2 linked regions of the Homo sapiens genome follow. The protein of the gene in region 2 purifies or fractionates together with the protein of the main gene of each other region. This does not show direct contact. Each region holds a gene or a part of one and is shown on either strand. Other genes may lie near its edges.

Region 1 (3,818 bases), on a different chromosome or scaffold from region 2:
GCTACCCACCGCCACCACTGTCACAGTTGTCCATCTTCCATATGGTAAATGCCATCTTTCCTCTAAAAACTATCATGCCTGTCATTCATATTTCATCACATCTCCGATAGAAGTACTTTTTTAAAAGGGGCTGGGGGAATTCTACCCAGAAATTGCTCCTGAATTCTCCTACAGATCCCTACTTCACGTAGTACAATCATAGGTTAAGAGCAAAGGCCCTGGAGACAGACTGACTTGGGTTTGAATTCAGATTCTATCACTTAGTTCTATGATTTTGAGCATGTTGCACAGCCTTTTAAAGACTCAGTTTCCTCATCTGTAAAACATTGTGAGGATAAAAAAAGATAAAATGTAGCGGGACATGTTGGCTCATGCTTGTAACCCCAGCAATTTGGGAGGGTAAGGAGGGCAGATTGCTTAAGCCCAGGAGTTTGAGACCAGCCTGAGTAACATGGCAAAACCCCATCTCTACAAAAAATACAAAAATTAGCATGTGCCTGTAGGCCCACCTACTTGGGAGGCTGAGGTGGGAGGACAGATTGAGCCCAGGAGGTTGAGTCTACAGTGAGCCATGATCACACCACTACACTCCAGCCTGGGCGACAGAGTGAGATCCTGTCTCAAAAAAATTAATTAATTAATTAATTAAACAAAATGTGGGACCCAGTAGGCATTCAATACATGTTAGCTACTGCTAGTAAAAGTATCTGGGCATGTATTTTATTCAAGGACCAGAGCTGACCCCAGAGGGATTACAGAAACTATAATTTGCTACAGTAAATTGTTTGACAGATAAAACTGTCAAACTCCCTTAGGTCAGGGCCTTTGTCTTTTTCTGGTTCACCAGTGTATTCCCTGAATCTAGAACAATGTGTGACAGACATTAAGCATCAATCTCAATATCTGTTCAATGAATGAATAAGACCCCATTAAAGGAGCATAAGAGAGCCTGGCTTTACCTTAACATACTCATTCCCTGTCAAAATTTTTAACACTTATCCTAAGGCACTGTTAAAGTTGTTTATTATTTTTAATTGCTTACCAAAAACCTAGAACAGTGTTCATAATATTAAGGTACTCAAATTTATTGCAATTAAAACTTTGCTGCTGGAGAAGCTGAGAGCTGAACACATGGTGGTCCCTGGAGCGTGGTGTGCCCAGAGAGGGCATGGAAGCTCCATGCCTCTTCCCCTATACCTCACCCTATATAGCTCTTTGTATCCTTTGCAATATCCTTTATAATAAACTGGCTGGAAAATGTGTTTTCCTGAGTTCTATGAACAGGTCTAGCAAATTAATCAAACCCAAGGCAGGGAATGGGGGGCGGTATTAGGAATGCCCATTTTTATAGTCAGCCTACAGAAGCACAGGTAAAAAAAAACCTGGGGCTTCAGATTGGCATCTGAGTTGGGGGCAGTCTTCTGGGACTAAACCCTCAACCTGTGGGATCTGACACTACCTCCAGATAGAAAGTGTCAGAATTGGCCAGGTGAGGTGGCTCATGCCTGTAATCCCAGCACTTTGGGAGGCTGAGGCGGGCGGATCACTTGAGGCCAGGAGTTCAAGACCAGCCTGGCCAAAATGGAGAAACCCCGTCTCTACTAAAAATACAAAAAATTAGATGGGTGTTGTGGTGGGTTCTTGTAATCCCAGCTACTCGGGAGGCTGAGGAAGGAGAATCTCTTGAACCCGGGAGACAGAGGTTGCAGTCAGCCAAGACTGCGCCACCGCACTCCAGCCTGGGCAACAGAGCAATTCTGTCTCAAAAAAAAAAAAAAAGGTGTCAGAATTGAACTGAATTAGAGGACACACAGCTAGTGTCCACTGCTGAAGAACTACTTGCTTGGTGTGTGGGGAAAAAAATCTCACACATCTGAGGTCACAGAAGTTTTCTGTATTGTGAGAGTATAAGATAAACTTATTAAAGTTTCTTATTCTATATTCTCAGAATTGGCGTCAGAATTGGGATTTGCTAGAATGACTTGGCTCACAGACACATATGGTTTGGGAAGAAAAAGGATAAAAGGATAGGGATAAAGAACTTTGATTCTTAGGTGGCCAAGTGGTCACCCATGGTAAAGAGCTGAAGCTGTGCTGTCATCAATTACTAAAGGTAAAAGTTATCCATGGAATCCAGAGATGGATCCAACTGCCTGGGAGTTGGTTCACAGGATGCACAAGGAAATGCAAACTAGTATTAAAAAAGTGATATGCTGGCTCGGCACGGTGGCTCACGCCTGTAATCCCAGCACTTTGGGAGGCCAAGGCAGGAGGATCACGAGGTTAGGAGATTGAGACCATCTGGCTAACAGTGAAACTCCATCTCTACTAAAAATACAAAAAATTTAGGCGGGTGCTGTGGCTCACGCCTGTAATCCCAGCTACTCAGGAGGCTGAGGCAGGAGAATCACTTGAGCCTGGGAGGCAGAGGTTGCAGTGAGCCGAGATCGTGCCATTGCACTCCAGCCCTGGAGAAAGAGTAAGACTTTGGTTCAAAAAAAAAAAAAAAAAAAAAGCGAAATGTTAAATCCCTTGGTTATTGTTATCTGTAACAGCTAAAATGAAATTAAAAGAAAGTGGTGGGTTGGACCTTCCCGCTAGACCAAGCTCAGCTTTCAGTGAATGTGAGAGCTTAGGCCACTAACCTCAAAGCTGTCCCTCAAGGGAAAAATGTATGCCGGGACAACAGAAAGTGCTTCTAAGACCTCTGGTAACAAAGAAGGTGGTCTGCAAAAATCAAAGAACTATTGAAACCAGGGGGTACAATGTGAAGGAATTGTTTCACTTTGTACATTAGTATCATAAGCTTCCTGAAGGGGACAGTCTGATTCCATAAATGCCAAGTGGAACACCCCAGATCCAGATAGAGCCACTGATATACTTCATATGCAAGCCATGTGAAACTGGCTTTATGATGACTAGGACATTTACCCTCTGAATATGCCCACTACCCAGTCATGGTAAATGCTGTGGTTAAGGGTGACCCCTTAATGTGGATAACCTTACTGTTGCAAAATCAAAAGACAGTTCGAGAAGCCTTATCAAATGTGCTGTCTCAGTTTCCTCTCGTGGGTCTTACAGATGCTAATAAAACCATTAGGTTAAGAGAATGGTGAGACAGAGGGCAAATGGATTCAACCCGGAAGGTGGAAATTTTTAAATGGTTATTAAGAAGTAAGGTAGGCCGGGCGCGGTGGCTCACGCCTGTAATCCCAGCACTTTGGGAGGCCGAGGCGGGCGGATCACGAGGTCAGGAGATCGAGACCATCCTGGCTAACAAGGTGAAACCCCATCTCTACTGAAAATACAGAAAATTAGCCGGGCTTGGTAGCGGGCGCCTGTAGTCCCAGCTACTTGGGAGGCTGAGGCAGGAGAATGGCGTGAACCTGGGAGGCGGAGCTTGCAGTGAGCCGAGATCGCGCCACCGCACTCCAGCCTGGGTGACAGAGCAAGACTCCGTCTCAAAAAAAAAAAAAAAAAAAAAAAAAGAAGTAAGGTAGCAGGGTGTGGTGGCTCATGCCTATAATCCCAGCACTTTGGGAGGCCAAGACAGGATGATCACTTGAGCCCAGGAGTTCAAGACTAGCCTGGGAGCCAAAGGGAGACCCTGCTGGTCTCCCACCATTAAGGGGTTCCAAACAAGTTTGCTATATTTACCCCAGTTTGGAGAAATTGTAAGTCAGGAGGCAGATTACAATGAGAAATCTGATCTGAAATTGTGGAAACAATAGGTAGATGAGTCAAGATAAAGACTGGCAAATGGGCAAGGGTCTCTTGGCTCAACCACCTGCTGGGGACCCCAAGCCTTCTGTATATAA
Region 2 (3,818 bases):
CCTGCATTGGCCCCATCCTGTCCTACTACCAAGGAGCACACGTGAGACCCCGGCCCCGGCCTCCAGCCCACATCAGTGCTTTCCATACCAGCAGGAGAACATGTGGCTGCCAAGGAAAGTGCTGGTGAGTAAAGGGAGGTCAGCCTTTTTGACTCGGCACTTCAAGGCATGTAAGAAGCATTGCTGTAACAGCTCATCCATTTGTTCTGCAGGGAAAAGACAAGAGCCACATCCTTCCTGAGGGATACAGAACACCTGGTACAAGAAAACGACCCCCAGCTTCATCCCTACCTCACCCACTTGGCTCTGAAAGGAACCCATTCCCAGGTACCAAAGCTCCCAGCCTCTCTTGAGCACTGAGCCTTTAAAGAGGGTTGACCCCAGAGAAGGAGTCAAGCCACAAAGTCCCACCAAGCTAGGAGTGTTCACCCAGAGAAGTTGAGCCAGAAGAAACCTTGGAGGGCTTTGTAGCTGAAGACAGGCAAATGCCAGGGCAGATTAGCTCCCAGGAAGACGTGACTTATGTGGAAAGGATTCAAAAACAAGATGTGAAAGGGCTGCTGCGCCACCCTCACAGAAAATAAGGACCTTCCCCTCCTCCCCCGGAAGCTTAAGGGCCATTCTAGTCAGCAGTGGAGTGGAGTTCGTCAGGCTCCTAAATTGAGAGGTGGGGAGATGGGCTCTTCTCCTCCTAGAGTTATACCTTGAAGCGTTTTGCTATCTGTGGAGTCTTGGTTCAGGCCCCTGGTGCTGGTGTCTTCTGGGGCTTCTGAGAGAGACTTGTCTTCACGTGCCTGGTGAACCTCCCCATTCTCCTCTTCCCCCTCCAGGGTCATGTGCCTCATGTCTCCCTGCAGGGTGGAGTCCATCTGGACAGACCCCTTCTCTTCACTGAGATCTGCTGAATCCAGGGCCAGTGGAGCAATGGAAGGTGGAGAGGACTTGTTTCCAGACCGCCTGGAAAAATCTCATGTCAGAAACATCAAGCAGCAGCTCCAATACTCTCCAGCCCTGGCCACAGAGGAGTCAGCAGTGAGGTCAGAGACAGCAGAGAGCCAACAGGCAGGAGTGGCCAGGAGGGGGCAGAGAGCCTGTGCCCTCATCTCAAGCGTACTTTCAATTCTGGGCCCCTAAAAGTTCCATGCCTCAGTTTCTTCATCTCTGAAATGGGGAGAATAAATCTTGTCTCCTCCCTATCCCAAAAGAATAATACTATTAATAGACATCCCAAGACTGAGAAAGATTAAAGAAAAAGGAGTTTAAGATAAACTCCCAAAAATGTTCCCTTCATCTGAGTTAATAACAAAACCAATTTGAATTAAATATGAACATTAAGATCGCGAATGCATCTGTAATATCTGTTTGGTGAAATGCAAACCCACGGCTCAGCATATGTAATAAAACACAAACACCTGGACTGCTCAAGGACTGCAAAATCAGTGGCTTCTGTGTTACATCAAATGCAGTCTAACGTGGAAAGCAGAGATTGCCATGGTTTTATGCCACTAAGCCTTAGGAAGACAGGAAAACAGGCGATGCCACATAGCAAAGCACACAAAGCAGTAAAAAACTTTATCTTAGCCAACATTATGCAAATCAAACTAAGTTTTAACTAATAGTTACGGCAAGGCTTCTCAGTGTTGTTCACAGTAAAGCCAAAGGGTATGTTTAGGCTATTCTGATCAGGTAAATACCATAAATATTTTTTTCAAGGTGCAGCGAGAGAACCAAAGCAGCTGCTGCTAAAACAACTTAGACAACCTGACCTTGATTGCTGTTGCCCAGACTGATAGTTAAACAACAAGGTGCTAGGAGAACATCAGTCATCAGCCCTCAAATATCTAAAAACAGGCAAAAATGAGCTTGTACCAGCAAAGGAGGACTTGGCAAGTACTTGTAAAATCAGTAAGTCCGGCGGGGAGCGGTGGCTCACGCCTGTAATCTCAGCACTTTGGGAGGCCTAGATGGGCAGATCACGTGAGGTTAGGAGTTCGAGACTAGCCTGGCCAACACGGTGAAACCCTGTCTCTACTAAAAACAAAAAAATTAGCCGGATGTTTTGGGCACAAGCCTGTAATCCCAGCTACTCGGGAGGCTGAGGTAGGAGAATCACTTGAACCGAGAGGCAGAGGTTGCAGTGAGCTGAGATTGCGCCACTGCACTCCAGCCTGGGCAACAAGAGCAAAACTCCATCTCAAAAAAAAAGGCTGGGCGCAGTGGCTCACACCTGTAATCCCAGCACTTTGGGAGGCCGAGGTGGGTGGATCACAAGGTCAATGGATCGAGACCATCCTGGCTAACATGGTGAAACCCCGTCTCTACTAAAAATACAAAAAATTAGCCGGGCGTGGTGGGAGGTACCTGTGGTCCCAGCTACTCAGGAGGCTGAGGCAGGAGAATGGAGTGAACCGGGAGGTGGAGCTTGCAGTGAGCTGAGATCACGCCACTGCACTCCAACCTGGGCGACAGAGCGAGACTCCATCTCAAAAAAAAAAAAAAAAAAAATTAATAATTCCAAGACTGGGCTGGAAAATATAAGAATGAATCTATACCAACAGGCCACAATACTTGGCTAAATGTGTGCTTTGAGAAAATCACTGCTTACTGTTTTGCTAAAATGACAAGAAAATAACCAGAAAATGAACAGGTACGCGTCTCAAGAATGCAACCTTTACAGTCAGAATGCGTTACTTTCATGAGGAGGAGGAGTCTGGAATGTGAAATCTGAATAACATAAAAGTAATCAGGTTATAATCCTGGAGTCTAAAGGTCTACCCTGCAGTGATTAGGATTCAGAAGCACTCATCATGGGGTCACATGATGTCTAAAATGTGCATCGCAGCTAGGGCCAGATTGACCAGGGCTATAAAAAAACGAGTATCACTGTACTGAGAGGCAGAGCAGATGATCCCTAAGGTCTTCCTTTGGGTCTAAGATTCTATAATTCACTTAGAAAATAAAGTTCTCTCTCATTACTTGTCCAAACAGGGGAAAAAAATATTTTCTTTATATTTGTAAGGAAATAAAAGTCTGGGCTTAGCAACTTGCTTAAAGACATGGCTAGGACCAAAACTCTCACTCCTGAATCACAGGCCCCATCCTCTCCCCAGCTGCCCCGGTTCTCTGTAAAACAGAAGAAACTCTGTACCCACCACAAGTGGTCCTGGTAAGTGTGGAGCACAGAGAAGCCCCTTCCCTTCAGGCCTGACGTGAGCATCTCAGCTGTGGACATGGCTGCAACTCCAATGGCTACAGGGGCTCTAAGAAGAAGGAAGCCAGAGACCAGGGTCATGGAAAATCTATGGGAAGGGCACATGTTAGGATCATCTTCTGACACATGTGGTAAAAATACCAAGGTTACCAATTCGAAGGTCTTGTATCATAAAACCAAACTCAGTCCACTCTCAGTTTTCTTCAGATTATGTACAAATATTACTTTCAAAAATCCCTTGACCAAATATTAAACTAAACACTAAACTTCTGTATTAGTAACTCCTCTATTGACTTTATCACTGCCTTTGTTTTATTCCTGCTGTGAATTAAATCTCCAGGTGGGTCTTGGAAGGATATTTAATGTTCCCTTTCATTAATTTCAAAAATATAAATTATCTCCTCTACCTTAAAGAAGTCATAGCCATCCCATAAGGAAGTTTAAAGGGGAGGCAATTCATATATCATAAATTAGGCTGAGGGATGCCATAGGGAAGAGAGAAGAGACACATAGTGGGGCCAACTAGAGAAGTTCCTTCTAAGTTGACTTTATAAGAGGGGTTGCTCAGTGTAACTATATATCTAAGAACTGGATGTTTCCAGGATAT

What was found.
Region 1: the proteins of EIF2D (region 2) and CKAP5 fractionate together in Homo sapiens (co-fractionation; one large-scale study listed by BioGRID). This does not show direct contact.

Annotation. Positions count from the first base shown.
Region 1 is NC_000011.10:46,839,504-46,843,321, forward strand, and holds part of CKAP5 (cytoskeleton-associated protein 5), read right to left. Parts: intron 1-3,818. UniProt on the Homo sapiens protein: Binds to the plus end of microtubules and regulates microtubule dynamics and microtubule organization. Acts as a processive microtubule polymerase. Promotes cytoplasmic microtubule nucleation and elongation. Plays a major role in organizing spindle poles.
Region 2 is NC_000001.11:206,602,248-206,606,065, forward strand, and holds part of EIF2D (eukaryotic translation initiation factor 2D), read right to left. Parts: intron 3,261-3,818; coding exon 3,153-3,260; intron 958-3,152; coding exon 704-957; intron 207-703; coding exon 89-206; intron 1-88. UniProt on the Homo sapiens protein: Translation initiation factor that is able to deliver tRNA to the P-site of the eukaryotic ribosome in a GTP-independent manner.